3 separate regions of the Homo sapiens genome follow, and regions 1 and 2 are each linked to region 3. Evidence: fine-mapped expression QTL. A gene starts in region 3. Each other region holds a variant in brackets. All regions are shown on one strand. Distances are from middle to middle.

Evidence for each region. PIP is the estimated chance that this variant, and not a neighbour inherited with it, causes the effect.
Region 1: its variant is the best candidate, but not a certain one, in a credible set for the expression of ATP8A2 in nasal epithelium (TOPMed, PIP 0.71).
Region 2: its variant is the best candidate, but not a certain one, in a credible set for the expression of ATP8A2 in whole blood (TOPMed, PIP 0.62).

Annotation. Positions count from the first base shown.
Region 1 is chr13:25,996,444-26,002,174 of GRCh38, reverse strand. All of the region lies in intron 35 of ATP8A2 (ATPase phospholipid transporting 8A2), which reads right to left. Among named protein-coding and RNA genes, the nearest start is that of SHISA2, 53 kb to the left of the region's middle. The variant A/G (reference allele first, on the strand shown) is at 3,257.
Region 2 is chr13:25,716,684-25,722,414 of GRCh38, reverse strand. All of the region lies in intron 25 of ATP8A2 (ATPase phospholipid transporting 8A2), which reads right to left. Among named protein-coding and RNA genes, the nearest start is that of SHISA2, 330 kb to the left of the region's middle. The variant C/G (reference allele first, on the strand shown) is at 2,957.
Region 3 is chr13:25,369,272-25,375,002 of GRCh38, reverse strand. It overlaps ATP8A2 (ATPase phospholipid transporting 8A2), which reads right to left and starts at 3,029. Exons shown (of 37, transcript NM_016529.6): 1 at 2,715-3,029. The coding sequence starts at 2,790.

The DNA.
Region 1 (5,731 bases), 630 kb before region 3:
CAGAATAACTAAGAGTAAATTTCAAATGTCTCATCACAAAAAATGATAAGTTGGTGAGGTGATGACAATGTTAATTAGCTTGATTTAATCATTTCACATTGTATAGCTGTATCAAAACATAACTTTGTACCCCAGAGGCTTATAAATTACAGTTTGTTAATTAATATTAATAAAAAGCATAAATATAAGAGCTAGAACAATATAAATCTTAGAGGAAAATACAGGGGCAAATCTTTATGACCTTGGCTTTGGCAATGGCCAAATGCAAGTAACAAAATAAAAGACAGATAAATGGGACTTCATGGAAATTAAAAACTTTTGTGCATCAAAGGTCATTATCAAGGAAATGAAAAGACAACTACAAAATGGGAGAAAATATTTGCAAATCATATCTGATAAAGGTCTAGTATCCAGAATATATAAAGAACACCTACAACTCAAAAGCAAAAAAACAAACAACTTGATTAAAAAATGGGCAAAGGACTTCAATAGACCCTTATTCAAAGAAAATACACAATAGCCAAAAAGCACATGAAGATAATCAGTATCATTAGTCATTAGGGAAATGCAAATCAAAACTACCATGAGATAGCACTTCACACATACTAGGATGGCTATTAAAAAAACCCCAAAACCAAAATAACTCAGAAAATAAGTGTTGGAGAGGATATGGAGAAACTGGAACTCTTGCACATTACTTGGTGAGATGTAAAATGGTGCAGCCACTGTTCCTTGGTAAGTTAGACACAGAATTATCTCATCACTCACCAATTCCATTCCTAAGAATATACCCAAATGAATGGAAAATGGACTCAGACAGATACCAGTACAATATCCCTAGCTGCGTTATTCACAAAAGCCAAAAGTAGAAACGACCCAAATGTCCACCAACTGACAAATGTGTAAGCAAATGTGGTCTATGCATACAATGGAGAATTATTCAGCCATATAAAGAAATATGGTACAGATGGATACATACTTCAGGGATAAAGACTGAAAATATTATGCTAAGTGAAAGAAGCCCAACCTCAAAGGCTGTGTATTACATGATTATATGAAATGTCCAAAATAGGCAAATATGTAAAGACTGAAAACAGGCTCGTGTTTGCCAGGGGCTGTAGGGCAGGGAGGTGGGGGAAAGGAAGTGGGAAGGACTGCGTCACACATATGGGGTTCCCTTTTGGGGAGATGAAAATATTCTGGAACTAGGTAGTGGTAATGGTTATACAACACTGTGACTCTACCAACTGCCATGTATGGCAAACTATAAAATAGTAAATGTTATGCTATGTGCATTTTATCACATTTTTTTGAGAAAGAAAATTGAATTAAAAAAAGGTGGATTGGGTGCCAAATCAAGGTCAGTTCCCTCCTATCACATGAGCTGTTGGTAATGATGCCATTTTTACAGTTTATTTTTCCCATGGTGGGGGGTATTGGCATTAAAGTACTTAATTTTTTTTTTTTTTTTTTTGGCTCTGTACTGGCAGAAGCAGGTATGCTAGCTGGGAACTATTGCTATGAAAGGTGTTGTGTAGACATTACTTCACCCAGAGATATGTGCAGTCTTAGTGCCTCCCCAGTAATGATGGTGAAACCCAAGCTCATACAAGTCCTTACAAAAGGCTCTTTTTAGAAGCTGACAAATCCTAGAGAAGGTGTTATGCTCCTGCCTCAAAAAATGATCAGTCTCAGGAAGAAGTGGAGAGCTGAGTTATGATGGAGAAAAATAAACTCTTGTGTCCACATTTCTGTTAGAAAGCTATTCCTGCAAAAATCACACATGCATAACTGCCAAAGAGCGGGAGTGTGGAGTACACAGCAAATAACTCCAAATCTGAATTTTAGATCTTGTCAATAGTTACAACTGACCGGAATCACAGCTGACACTACAACAAAGCCAAAAACAAGTAGGTAATTTTAGAAACTTATTTTTAAATTAGCTACTGGGCAGTCTGCAAAACACAGATGTGACAGGCCCTCAAGAAAAAAAGCTGGTCCCCAGTTCCCTGTCCTTCAGGGAAGGCCAAACATCTACCAATCCACCAGGCTGTTAACATTCTAACCTGCTTTATTAGAGAATGATATTTCATAGCCACAATTGGCAACTTATTTTACTCATTATCATTAGGAAATGAAAACCTTCGGGGCTCAAGTGTATTCCAGACCTACCTAGACCTTTGTTTTATCTAAAACTTTACCTTAGTTAAAGACACTTATGTAATGAAGGAAAATCACAAGAATAAAACAAAAACAAAATCGGTTTTCCAGCCTAAAACTTCAATAAGAGTTATATTTATTTTATATACCACGGAACTACGAGCCCTCCAGAAATTCCATTCTGTTAGATGGTAGTAGATGATTCTCCTTTCCCCTTTCTGCCAATCCATATGCATCTTCTTTTTAAAAACATGACCTCTTGACCTCCCATTAATTCAGCATTTGTACTGCGCCTACTGTGTGTGAGACCCAATGTTGGAAACAAAGTTACCCAAGACACAGCCTCTGCCCTCATGAACTCACAGTCTTTAAGGTGACCTCGCCGTGCAGACACTTACCATGCTATAAGGTGATGATGCCCTTACAGAGATTGTGCTAGGCTCAGGAGAGGTGACGTGGAGGAGTGAAGAACTTGGAGCAGGGCAGAGAGAATCAGCACTGAAGCTGGGTCCTGAACAATGGATGGCCCTTTGCTGACCATCCAGATGCAAACACAGGAGGAGAAAAAGGTTCAGCAGGAACAGCAATGAATCCAGTTTCAGATGTGGGGCCTGTGAGCGCCTCTGAGGTGTTCAGAAGACAGGGGACCAGAGAGAGGTCAAAGCTGAGATGCAACTTTGGACTCAGCTTGTAGAAACCCATGGAGAGCTGGTAGACTGAGAAGCAGCACTGTGCCTAGTGATCCCTGGAAAACACCAGCACACCATCTGTGTGTTCAACTAGAGGGTTCATTCAGCCGGAACCAAGTCTTACACTTTTTGTTATGTTTTTCACAGTACCTATCCTGGGCTGAAAACAGAGGACACGGTTCAATATGTAAAATTGCATGTGTGCTTTGTATTAACTGATTTGTGGTGCGACTCTCTTCTTATGTTGTGTCTCCACAACTCAATCCTTCACCATTTGTCTCGTGTCTATCCATAACGCCCAGCATTGAGCTCAGGACACAGTAGGTTTTCCAATAGTGGCCAAGGTAAATTCCTCTGTATTATTCTTTTAAAATGCCAGAATATGGACATTGTCCCTATTCTCTTCC[A/G]GAGAGAAAAGCTCACTCCAAATTCCAGAAGATATTGTGAGCAGTGTTTGTGGATTTATAGAGATGAAACATTGTAATTTTTTAAGAATTCAGGTTACATGGGACAGTTTGGGGGACATTCTGGCTGAAGACACCATAGGGTTCAAGGTTAACTAACCCTAATACAAATTCCGTTCCAAAAATAAACAACAGATTCCTCCAGTCCTCCCTGGACCCAACTTTCCTCTAATAATAAAAACTGGGCACTGGAGAGAAGAGAGGCTTGTAGCAGCACAGTGCTTGATTTCCTCTGTCCCAGACAAGGTTTTCCCAGTAGAGGCAGAGGACGATTCTGAATGTCCACAGGCATGAACAAAGAAGCCTACCTAGCAAATGCCTTTTCTCTCCAGACAAAGGAACAGGAAAGGGGCAGCCTAGCAAGACAGAAAACTTTCAGGCCTGAAGTACTCATCTGCAGCCAGATACCCCAGAGAAAAAGGTGGCCCCCTCACCCCCAACCCATGCCAGCAAAGACCTAGTGGTGCTCTTAGACTTCTTCCCTTAGGAGACTGTTATGAGGCTCTCCAACACCCTTATGGGGAGGTGAAAAAGAAGACCAAGCAGGGATCCTTGACTTTCATCCCTGCCAGCCAATAAGGACCCCTCCCTTCTGGGATGTCAGCAGAGATCACTTCGGATGACTAGACTTCCATCCCCAACCCAGTGAAATGTGAAGGCATCCTTTTCCCTCTTCACTGGGTGATGTCAGAAAAGGTCTTATGGAGAATCAGGACCCCTGCACCTGGAGAGCAGGAGCTCCCATCCCTACCCTGAAGACATAAACAGAGGCCATTAGTGAATCTGGATTACCTCTACCCGGCAGGAGCCAGGCTGCCATGAAATCCAGAGTCCATAGCATAATAGCCAAAATGTCCAGGTTTCATTTGAAAATCACTTATTTTACCATAAACCAGGAAGATCTCAAACAGGGAGAAAAATAAAAATGATCAATAGATGCTAACACCAAGACGTCAGAAACAGTGGAATTGTCTGACAAAGATTTTAAAGTAGCCATGGTAAAAATGTTTCAATAAGTAATTATGAACACACTTAAAAGAAAAAAAATAGAAAGCCGCAGCCAAGAAATATAAGACTTAAAAGAACAAATAGGAAATTTCAGAACGGAAAAATATAACAACTGAAATAAAAACCTCAGTGGATGGGCTCAACAGCAGAATGCAGGGGACAGAGGAAATCGTTAGTGAACTGAAAAATAGAACAGTAGAAATTACCCAGTCTGAGTAATAGAGACAAAATAGACTATAAAAATTAACAGAGCCTTGGGAGCCTGTAAGAATATAATAGAAGATCTAACATTCACGTCTTCAGAGTCTCAGAAAAAGAGGAGAAATACGGCAGGGCTAAAAGAGCACTCAGAAATAGTGGCTGAAAATGTCCCAATTTTGATGAACAATATAAACTTACAGAGCAATTCTAAAGAGGATAAACTCAAAGAAATCCACAACAAGACAGATTTTAATTACACTGCCAAAAACCAACGACAAAGATTCCAAAGGCAGCCAAAGAGAAATGACACCAATAGAGGAAAACCACGTAGGTTGACAGTGGATTTCTCATCAGAAACCACTGAGGCCAGAGCAACTGGCACAACATTTTTCAGGTGCTGAAAGAACAGAACTGTCAACCCAGTGAAAATATCTTTCAGGAATGAAAAAGAAATCTCTTGAATGGAAGGAAAACTAAGAAAATTTGTCACCACCAGAACGATCTTACAGGAATAGCTAAAGAAAGTCCTATAAGGTGGGGGCACGGTGGCTCACACCTGTAATCCCAGCACTTTGGGAGGCCAAGGCAGGAGGATCACTTGAGGTCAGGAGTTCAAGAACAGTCTGGCCAACATGGTGAAACCCTGTCTCTACTAAAAATACAAAGATGGGCTGGGCATGGTGGCTCACGCCTGTAATCCCAGCATTTTGGGAGGCCGAGGTGGGAGGATCATCTGAGGTCAGGAGTTCGAGACCAGCCTGGCTAATGTGGTGAAACCTTGTCTCTACTAAAAATACAAAAATTAGCCAGGTGTGTTGGCAGGTGCCTATAATCCCAGCTACTTGGGAGGCTGAGGCAGAAGAAATGCTTGAACCCAGGAGGTAGAGGTTGCGGTGAGCTGAGATTGTGCCACTGCACTCCAGCCTGGGCAACAGAGTGAGACTCCGTCTCAAAAAAAAATTAGCCAGGCATGGTGGTGCACACCTGTAATACCAGCTACTTAGGAGGCTGAGGCAGGAGAATTGCTTGAACGCCAGAGTGCGGAGGTTGCAGTGAGCTGAGATCACACCGCCACACTCTAGCCTGGGCAACAGAGTAAGACTCCATCTCAAAAAATAAAAAATAATAATAAGAAAGTTCTATAAACAAAAAGGAAATGATAAAAGAAGAAATCTTGGAACATAAAAAAGAAAGAATATAGTAAGCAAA
Region 2 (5,731 bases), 350 kb before region 3:
CAGCACCCTATAGGGAATGGGGAACTTCCTGATGGCCTTGTTCAAGGAAGTCTTGGGACCAAACAGTACTTTAGTAACCCTCTTAGGTAGCAATCTATTGATGAAGGCCCTGGAAACAAAAGGGATCAGCTACTGCCATCAAGGAAGAAGGGGAAATTGAACTGAGGAGGCTACTAAGGAGCAGAGGGTATTACTGCAATGGGGTTCAGAGCCACGGCTCCCACACTGAGATACCACTGCATACCCACTAGGATGGCTATAAGCGAGAAGTCACATGACATCACATAATATCAAAAAGTCACATACCAGCATTGGCAAGGATGTAGAGGAATTAGAACCTTTCCACACTGCTGGTGAGAGTGTAAAATAAGGCAGCCACTGGGGAAAACAGTTTCATGGTTCCTCAAGAGGTTAAACATACAGTTACCATTCAGCCAGTGATTTCACTCCTGGGCATATACCCAGGAAAAAATGAAAACACATATCCTTGCAAAAACTTGTACATGCGTGTTCATAGCAGCATTATTTATCATAGACAATAAAAGGTGGAAATAGCCTAAATGTCCATCAACTGATGAATGGATAAACAAAATGTGGTATATCCATACAATGGAATATTATTCAATCATACAACAGAATGAAGCACACATACATGGATGTGGATGAACCTTGAAAACACTGTCGTAAGTGGAAGAAGACAGACACATGCAAGACTGCATGATGTATGATTCCATTTACAAGAAATGGGAAGGACAAGCAAATCTATAGAAATGGGAAGTAGGTAAGTGGCTGCTTAGGGCAGGGGGCTAGGGCTGTTCAAGTGTACCAGGTTACCTGTTTTAAAAACCTGATACATAACAGCTGTACATACTCGGGCCTATCTCTCAGCATTCAAGTCAAAATGGATTAAAGATGTAAATGTTAAACCTGAAACTGTGAAACTGCTGGAAGAAAACATTGGGGAAATGCTTCAGGACACTGGTCTGGGCAAAGATTTTTGAGTAAGACCTCAGAGTCAGGCAACCAAAGCAAAAACAGACAAACACAAGCTTTCTCCTAGAGGTGATGAAAATGTTCCTTAATTTAGTGTGATGATGGCTGTTCATATCTGTGACTATATTAAAAACCACTGAACTGTACATCTAAGTGGCTGAGTTATTTAGTATATGGACTGTAACTCAACAAAACTGTTATTGAAAAAAAAAAAAGCTCACTTGAAGTCAGGAGTTTGAGACCAACCTGAGAAACACAGCAAGACCCTTATCCCTACCAAATAATAATAATAATAATAATGAGCCATTTGTGGTGGCATGAGCCTGTAGCCACAGCTATTCGGGAGGCTGAGGTGGGAGGATCACTTGAGCCTAGGAGTTCGAGGTACAGATTGCATCACTGCACTCCAGCCTGGATGACAGAGTAAGACTCTGTGTCAGGAAAAAAAAAAAAAAAAAAAGCTAAAGCTCCCACAGCTCAGACCAGTCAGAGCTGAGGCCTCTCTGCCCAGTCCAGCACTACGTTCAGCCTTGGGACATGGCATCTAACCTTCCTCCCACAGGGTTTTTATGAGGCTATAATAAGACAAGTTGCATGAAGTTCTTAGCAGAGGCTGTCGTAGCACAGGGATTGCTGAAGGCTGAATGAAAAGTTAGACTCAAAAGAAGCAAGCATCAGGAAGTAAGAACTGGAGAATGGTTAAAGGGGACGAGGATGAGGAGAAATGCACATGGTTCTGAGGTTTCACACCTGAGGGGTGGGCACGATGAGCCATCATCAGCAAACGTCCCAGAGTTGCCTTCCTGTGTAAGGGAAGAGGCCACGTGTGAGATGAGTGGACGACCTGAGGGAAGGTGAGAGTTTCACACGGAGATCCCAAGGTCCATAAAGATGAACCTATTTTCTTTGCCAACTCTGAAAATTTGTCCCATAGAAGTATACATTTATCAGAGGTCATGTGGCCAGGCGCAGTGGCTCATGCCTGTAATCCCAGCACTTTGGGAGGCCGAGGCAGGCGGATCACAAGGTCAGGAGATTGAGACCATCCTGGTGAACACGGTGAAACCCCGTCTCTACTAAAAATATAAAAAATTAGCCTGGCATGGTGGTGGGCACCTGTAGTCCCAGCTACAGGCTGAGGCAGGAGAATGGCATGAACCTGGGAGGTGGAGCTTGCAGTGAGCCGAGATTGCACCACTGCAGTCCAGCCTGGGCGACAGAGTGAGATTCCTTCTCAAAAAAAAAAAAAAAAAAGAAAAAGTATACATTTATCGGAGGTCATGTGCAGATAACAGAAATCATGCTGGGTATTTTAACTAGAAGGTAACTTTATACAAGAATTCGGAGCTTATAAAATCAGGAGAGAGACTTGAAGAATAGCCTCTGAGCTGTGCCTCCAGGATGACCCCCAAGACCCAGACACCAGCACAGAGGGGATGCTACATGAGGAAACCTGTCCTCATACCACTGTCTCCAAGCACAGGACACAGGAGCCACCAGAGGCCCCACCAGAGCCCCATCCTTACATTGCCTCCAAGCATGGGCTACAGGGGCCACCATGGGGGCCCCACAGCGATGCCAGCTCTGGGCACAGCTCGCCTGCCAGTCAGGCCAGCAAGCTGATGTCTGGACCACACCATCCCTCTACCCACTTAATTCTGCTCTGTGTTCAAGTCTTACATAAGTGATTCTGACAGGCTAGTCATTTTCAGAACCCTTGCTGCCAGGGGATGATTTTTCAGCTTTCTAGTATCAGCAGGACAGGAAAAGACACAGACGGGAGATTGGAATGGATGTTAAATGATTGAATCTACCTTATCTGCCATCTCATCTCAAAATAACAACAGCTTAATTTTAGTGAGGTGAGTAACAAATGTTCTGGGAATGCTTGCTGCAAGTATCTATCTATCTTATCTATCTCCATCATCCATCCATCCATCCATCCATCCATCCACCCATCCAC[C/G]CATCCACCCATCCACCCATCCACCCACCCAACCTTTCAATTTAAGAAGCAATGTTCATGTCAGCCTCAGAACTGCTAAGCCAGCTTCTCTTACTAACTGCCACATAGACCCAGCAAGACAGTAGCATCCTTAGAAAAACCAATCTTGCCAAAGCAACAAATTGTTTTTCTTTCTCCTCTGTGAATCAATCAATTAAAACAAGCAATCCCCAAAGGAGAATGAGTAGACAGCACAGGGCTGTAATGTTGTGGAACTGCTTTATTTTCAAAGAAATGAAATAGCAAGACATTCAAAATTAAAGCATAGAGCCGGATCACGGAAGTTTCCGACACGGAGATGGATTCACAGGATCTAAGTGCTCACCTGGGAAAGTCCAGGAAGAAAAGCACTCCCAGAAACTGACCTGTAAGTTTTTCACAGTAGGTCTAATTTAGAGGTGCAGAACAAGGCAAGTCTTCTGAAACCCCGAAACATGCAGAAAATGCCACTGGTGTCCCCACATGCACGCGTATGTTCTTACACATCAACAGGGGCCCATTCCCTTCCACTCCTGCCATTTTTGTACCAACTTGTCTACCTAGTTCTAATCAATGCAAAGAGCCAACCAATTACAACAGAAGAAACGCCTCTAAGTTTCATCTATCACTAAATAAACAGTACGTGTTTGTAAGCCTTTACTTCTAACTAACCTTAGTAAAATCAATGTAAAACAATTTACTGGTGTTTTAATCTTTCTTATTTGGGGCTAAAAAAATCTAATTTCCTTTCTGTGATTCACACTCTGTCTCAGGGGGTGCTCTTGGAGGATGTTTCCTAGATTGGAGCTGGCTCTTTAGCATTCTGTTTTTCAGTACAGTCCCAACTTCTGCACCTCATCAAGTAAAAACAAACAACCCTCTCCCTGGATACTTCTCTAGACACAATAGAATGGCAGCAAAATAACAGCCTACTGGCTCTCAGTGTTGTATACCAGTATGCCAGTGAGCACTCATAACCCAAACCAAAATGATACACACGTAAGAATGAACCAAGAGACTCAGAATACCAGGGCAATAAAACGGGAAAAAAAATGAATAGCAAACGAAAAACTCTACTAATTTATATGTCATTTAAATTTTTTCTGACCCCGAGTCTCTGTGATATTAAGATGTTGCTTAATGAAGTTTTAGATTTGAGGCTTCCTCCAATTCAAGGAACTTACGTAAATCTGTTTTGAAAGATTTACTCTATTTTATTACGACAAAATAAATGACAAATTGATCTTAACCTAATTTTCCCAATGTTATTATCCTACTCTAAAAGGCCACCACGCCACACAAATTAAAATCTGATCACCTGCCCAGTGCCAACATCAAGGGAATAAATGCTGGGGTGCATGGGACATAATTTTGAAACAGGCAACACACACCATGCCCAGACCCTTCCTGCCATCTGCTTCACTGAAACCCTGGGGACTTGCATAGGAGATTGTTTCCTTTTCCTTATAAGCCTGGACTTTAAAGCACTATCATAAAAAACACATAATGTAGTAAGAGGAAGGAAATTAAAATGCCATCGATAAGCGAGGTTAACTTCAATCTTCAATCCAATCTGTGTGCATTAGGTACATGCCAGACCACAGGAACTGCACAACCAAGCACATACTACAAGACCAGCAGCAGCTATACTGAGGGAGGCATTCAGATGAGGGTTGATCTCTCGAAAAGGAAACATATCCACCAAAGGACAGCCATTCATTATACACAGTCGGTGAGATTATAAGAAAGTGGTTTTGGTCTATTTTTTCCCTTCAAAATTTCTTCATTAAACATTTAGTTAGAATTGTTGTATATTTCTTCATTCAATCTTTAGATGCTTTTTGAAAAGAAGAGCTCAACAAAGTAAAAGAAGTACATTAAAGTAGCACATGGCACCACCACTTACCCAGTTTCATAGTTTTGTGATCTAGGGTAAGTGACTTGACCTCCCCTAAGCTTTGGTTTTGTCTGCTGCTGCTGGTAGTGGTAGTGCCTACCTTGGTGTTTTTTTTTTTTTTTTTTAGTTTTTTCAGGATCATATGGAATAATGCCTGGACAGAGCTCAATAGAGAGCCTAACCCATTCTCAGCACTCAATGGCTATCATAACTACCAAAATCCCAAATCCCTGATCCCATTCTCAATAGCTCCTTCTTCCTTACTATTACCTTTCATATGTGACTACAAATCCTCCCAATTTTACATCTAGACCACCCTCAAATCTCTTCATTTCTCTTCACCTCTGTAATCCATGCTACCATAATCTGATGAATGAATGAACGAATGAACAAGCGGCCATTCTTTCAGACAGTCACTCTGGCAATGCTGCCAGCAGGTGGATATGCACATTAAGTGAAGACTCACTGGTGATAGTGGCATGTATAGGCAGCAATGATTAAAGTCACCTTTCTTTCCAGAAAGAGTATTTTCCTAACTCCACTCTAGCCAACCTGCCTCTGAGTCGGTATGTTTGGCCCTTTGAAATTAAAGGAAAAAACTAAATAAGCAATTCATGCTTTATATATTCAGTAGTCCTATAACTTATACACTGCACATCACTGTTTCTTCTCTCACAACTTGTCATCACTGCATTTGCTTCTTTTTCCTCTTTCCTGTTAGGTTTGTATCCCTCATCCTCAGTGCCAGAATGTAAGCTCCATGAGGCCAGGGCTATGTCTGACTTGTTTATGATCATAGTTCCAGTGCCTGGAACAATGTTTTACACGTAATAAGAGCTACATAAATATTTTTCAAATTG
Region 3 (5,731 bases):
AAGATGGCTCAGACAAGAAAATATTCCAGAATTATTTTTAAAAATAGTATACAGCTCAGCATATACTCTTGAAGCTGACTGTGATCTGCAATCCTTTCATCATTAGTTTATTTTTTAATAATGAGAAGTAGCAGACTTCACTAAAAATCACACATCTTTGTTTAGTATTTTTATGGGAGTACACGATTGTCAGGCCCTCTGCCCCTGTTTCCATCAGTGTCCCCAGGAGCCCACACTATGCAGATCCTCTTTCTTCTCCATACATTATGCAAATACCCTAAACAGGCCCCATCTCAGAGCCTCCACTCTGTCTCCTGGAACTTTCAGCCTATCATCAGCAAGATCCCTCACAACCCGACCCCTCTGACTATTCCTGAAACTTCTTGCCTTAACTGCTCTGCCAGGAGGACCCTGCTTCTCACGGTTACTCTCAGATCACTGCCTTCCCCCCTGCTCCCTAAAAGCTTCCTGCGTTGATGTTCATGCCGTCAGACTGTAGAACAGTCTCAAAACAAAGCGACCTCTCTTGAACTCACATTTTCCTCCAGCTACCACTCGATCTGCTTCTCCCCCTGCCTTTTCTGCAATATTCACTCAAAAGAGTTTTCCGGACTTGCTGTTTCCAGTTCCTGTCCTGTTACTCTTACACCTGCTCTATTAGGCGTTCTTCCCCACAATGATATGTTAACAGCTCTTTTCAAGATCACCAGTGACCTCCACTTACATGACAGTTCTCCAGCCTCATCTTTATTGAGCTCAGCAGCACTGGGCACAGGTACACCCCACCCCTTCCTGAACATCTCCACACTGAGTTTCAGAGCACTCCCTCCGGGTTTCCGGGGACCTCCCTGGCCATCCTCTCAGGCCCCTTCTGTTGACCCTCATCTCCCTAACCTCAAAATGTTAGAGTGCCCAGGACTCTATCCAAGGACCCCTCTTTTCTAAGTCACATCTGTACACATTGACAGCTGATCACATAATTCTTAGGGGCCCGTGTAAAATGAAAAGGTGGGCCCCTTGTTCAAAAATTAAGACTTTCAAGACAGCAACACTGGGCAGAACATCCAAGCAAGTGCTGACTCTTGTAAGAGCCAGACTCTGAGCAGCTGCAGGGCATACACTCTTGGAGCCGGTCCTGCCGACGACTCTTGAATCTCTATGTCTGGCCTTGCACACTCCCCGGAGCCCCAGACTCATAAATCCAGCTCTCTACTAATCATCTCCTCTTGGATCTATGGTAGGCATTTCAGACCAAATTCTTCACACCCTCCCTTACCGCAAAAGAGAACCCTGGTCCTCCGCAGTTTCCCCATCTCAGCAAGGGGTGCATTCTTCCGGTGTCTCAGACCAAAACCCTTGGGGGCATCTTTGATTCTTTTCTTGTACTGAAGCCCCACATCCAAATCATAAGCAAATGCCTTTGGCCCCACCTGCAAAGGTACAGAGGGTGTCCCCAGGTCTCCTCAGGCTGCCTCCACCTTGGGAAATTCTCACACCTGTATGACTGCGCCCTCCCACTGTCTCTCTGCCACAGCTCTTCCCTGCTATTTAGTCTTGACCCTGCACCCCGTGACCCCTTCAGGCTGGGATTCTCCTCAAAATGAATGTGAAAGTGTCCTGACTTTACCCAAGTTTAACAAACATTGGCTTAAATTACCTGATAAGCTTGCTTCCCTCTCACGTTACTCAACTACAGAAATACAAAAGTCGCTTATTTTTATGTGCCTATTTTCTCAAAACAAATAAAAAAGCACGAAGACAAGTGACCCCAGCTCCAAACTGTACACCCTCTACCTTCCTCATGTCAAAGATCTACCTGCAAACTTGCCGCAGTCCTGAAACGGTAAGAAATCATTTTTGGGGCTCCTCTTTACGTCTGCATTAACTAATGGTCTAGGTAACCCTATCAAGTGTCATAGCCACATAACATCCAGCTCCACGACATCATAGTTTCTAAATGTGTTCTATAATCATAGAACGCGGGCCTCTAACAGTGTGAGTGGTCGGGTATGGTACATGCGTGTTTGGCTTTAGGTTTCGAGTTCCAACACCCAGGCGCCTGCAGGCAGGGTATGTGTACGCGTGCGTGTGTACGTGTGTGTGTACCTGTGTGTGTGTGTGCGCGCGCGTGTGCGTGTGTGTGTTCGTCTCCAGATGGTTGTATGCACGGATGGTTATGAGCCAGTACGTCGCCGCTGTGAGCGCGCGAGGACCCGGGGCTCCAAGTGGTGAGAATCACTCGAGGGACCCTTCGGATGCCTTTTTCCCCCTCTGCTTTTGAGCTCTGCAGCACAGCGGTGCCGGCCGCCGGCAGGGAAGGCTGCATCTTCTCTGCGCCGCCAAACCGTGCCCACCATCGCGGTGACTGCCGCCTAGGTCGCATCCCTGAGCCGCATCCGCGCGTAGGGGCGCACGGGCACGCGCACAGGGAGGCCGCACACACACACACACATCTGTACAGGGACGAGCCGGGGGTCTCTGACGCCCGCCGCTCACCTCGCCCCGGCCTGGAGCCTTTTGGCCCCGCAGGTGCAGCGACGCCCAGCCCCCGTGCGGCCAGCGCGCCGCGTCGGCGGATCCTGCAGCCCAGAGAGCCCAGGGAGCCCAGGGAGGGGAGCGGGGCGCGGGCGGGGCAGTGTCGCATAACCGCAGGCGCGCCCCGCGCCGCCCCCGCCCCGGGCCCACCCTCCCTCGCCGCGCCCCTCCCAGCTCACCCACGGACGAGCGGATCCTCGACCTCCGCGGCAGGGACATCTTAAGAGCTTTGTCCAGGCCTGCGCCGTTCAGCATCTCGCCCGTGTCGGGGGCTCGGCGGCCCCGGGCGAGAGACGGAGGCTACGCGCAGGGCTGGGCGCAGGGGCCGCCGCCCGAGGACCATGGGTGGGCCAGCGCCTCGCCGGGCTGCTAGCTGGCGGGGACCGCCGGCGCCTGTGCCGGGCCGCGCCCGAGGCTGCGCCGTCCGTGCCGCAGCGGCCAATGCGGCAGCATCCGCGAACGCCACCGCGGCGGGCCCCGCTGGCCCGGGCTGCGGCGTGGGGGCGGGGGACCGGCCCTGAGCGGAGCCCCGCGGGAGGAGGAGCGGACGGGAGGCTGGGAGGGATCCGCAATATTACGCAGGACCGGGGCTTTTAGGTGTCGGGGAAGGCGATGGGGAGGGCTTGGTGGGGTGGGAGATTGGGCCTGTACTTTCGGGGGCTCTTCCAGGAGAGGGGTGCACCTGGGGGACTCGGAGTCTCTGCCTGTCTGCTACCTATTTACCTGCCTGTCACTTGTCCTGTGCAAGTGGAGGCGCTGTGATTCCCCAGGACTCATCCAGTCCCTTTCTTTTCGCAGTTTCTGTTCTTCCGTGCCCAGCCTGGTGGGATCTGTGTAGGGACTTCGTGGAAGGGTTATTTCCAAGGTGTCTGATGTGTGGCTTGGCACTCAGAGAAGTCGGGGGTCTCCAGCCCCCCACTCTCCACAACCTGCCTGACATTCTAACTACGCATATTAAAGCTGCAGGTAGCCCTAGGGAACCTTAACAGCAACCTTCTCAACCCCCGCACGCACACACACACACACACACACCCATCGACACACACACACACACACACAGACCCATCGACACACACACACACACACCCATCGACACACACACACACACACCTTCTTTCATAAAACAAAACCATCGAGAGGTAAGATGACTTGTCCAAGGTCACTTGATCTATTTTTTGTTTTTTCTTATCGCGTAATGTTTAGACTGTGCTTGGTCTTTCTGGGCACAATCCCATGAAGATAAGAAGCTATCTTTATTGTGCCTGATGACATTCTGACCTCGGAGTAAAAACGGAACAAAACAAAAATAAAACTGTTCAGGTGAAAGTCTGACCTTGCTTTTACTGATGCGAGCATTACATTTCTTTTAACCTAAATTAACATTAGGGACTGACAAGGAGTAGTACAGAGTTCAGCAAAAAGAATCTGTGCTAGCAAAGACAGCAGTGCGGCCTGAGCTCCTCCTGCCTGGCCTCTGCATCTGATTTTATTTTCTTTTACTTTTTTTTTTTCTTTGACAGAGTTTTGCTCTTGTTGCCCAGGCTGGAGTGCAATGGCGCTATCTCGGCCCACTGCAACCTCCGTCGCCCGGGTTCAAGTGATTCTTGTGTCTCAGCCTCCCGAGTAGCTGGGATTACAGGCGCCCACCACCACGCCCAGCTAATTTTTGTATTTTTAGTAGAGACGGGGTTTCACTAAGTTGGCCAAGCTGGTCTCGAACTCCTGACCTCAGGCGATCCACCTGCCTCGGCCTCCCAAAGTGCTGGGATTACAAGCGTGAGCCACCACCCCCGGCCTCTGCTTCTAATTTTCTTAAGAACAAACATCCAGGCCGCGCGTGGTGGCTCACGCCTGTAATCCCAGCACTTTGGGAGGCAAAGGCGGTCAGATCATGAGGTCAGGAGATGGAGACCATCCTGGCTACCGCGGTGAAACCCCGTCTCTACTAAAAATACAAAAAAAAAATCGCCGGGTGTGGTGGCAGGTGCCTGTAGTCCCAGCTACTCGGGAGGCTGAGGCAGGAGAATCGCTTGAACCCAGGAGGTGGAGGTTGCAGTGAGCGGAAATCATGTCACTGCACTCCAGCCTGGGTGCCAGAGTAAGACTCCACCAAAAACAAAACAAGACAAAACAAAAAACAACATCCAAAGGGACAGGCAACTTACACTGAAAACTGCAGGCTGGCAAGAATCTACACTAAATGTAGCTTCAGGTAGGATTCTTTACCTGTCTCTTCTGGGCCCTCAAAAAATTTTTCTGATAAGAAATGAATCTTTATCAGGAAGATGAATCAAAATAAAATTTTCTAAATTGTTGAGCTAAGCTTCAGAGTGGGAGAGGTTTTCTCAGTGGATCTTCATTGCTGCTGAGGATAAATCTTAAAGCTGGGGCTAATCCTAGGACTGGATTTGTCAAAAACTTGTCACTATGCTTCAGTAAATCTTCTGTCTATGATAACACCTTGAGGACCTAACCAGAATTGAAAGGAACTTAAAAGGAAAATGTGGTTTTTTTCAATCCCCAAACTTCAAGATAAATAGAAAACATTTTGGGTTTTTTTGCTCTGACTTAGGTGGGAATAGAAAGAGTAGATAAAGGTTATTTTTAATTTTTAAGAAGCAGAGTATGTTATATATAGAATATTTGCCTTGATCACTGAAGAGTGACCAAATGTCCCACCCTGACTTTGTGCAGCCCCATCATGAAACAGAGTTGTTGCTGCTCTTTCTATGTTTATCTTCCAATAACCAAACTGCCCTGACAGCTTTGTAGGTGTGTGAAATATACCTCAGTTGGTGCACCTTGAAGATCACAGCATAGACTGCAAGGAGCAGTAGGTGAATATTTCACAGCAACTTGTGTTGTCTCTTTGATGTCTTGGTTAATTCCCCTGATCTGACTGCCTCTTGGAATGTTGGGGAGATCAGTAGGTTGGCATTGGCCAGAGTCAGACCTAAATCCCATCTCTGAGGTCTTCAAGGGAAATATATGCACAAAGGACAAAAGCTAGCAAATGGACAGTATTTATTATTATGCTTAGAATCCAGTGCCGATGTGGATCACCCTGTGACCCAGGCTTGGCTTGGAGACATCCTTTCACCCTTGCCAGAGGCAGCCTAGGTTAGAACCAAAGGAGATAAAGAAGCCTGTGAGGAGAAACAGCAAACGCAAAAGGCACCGCAACCAGGACAGTCAG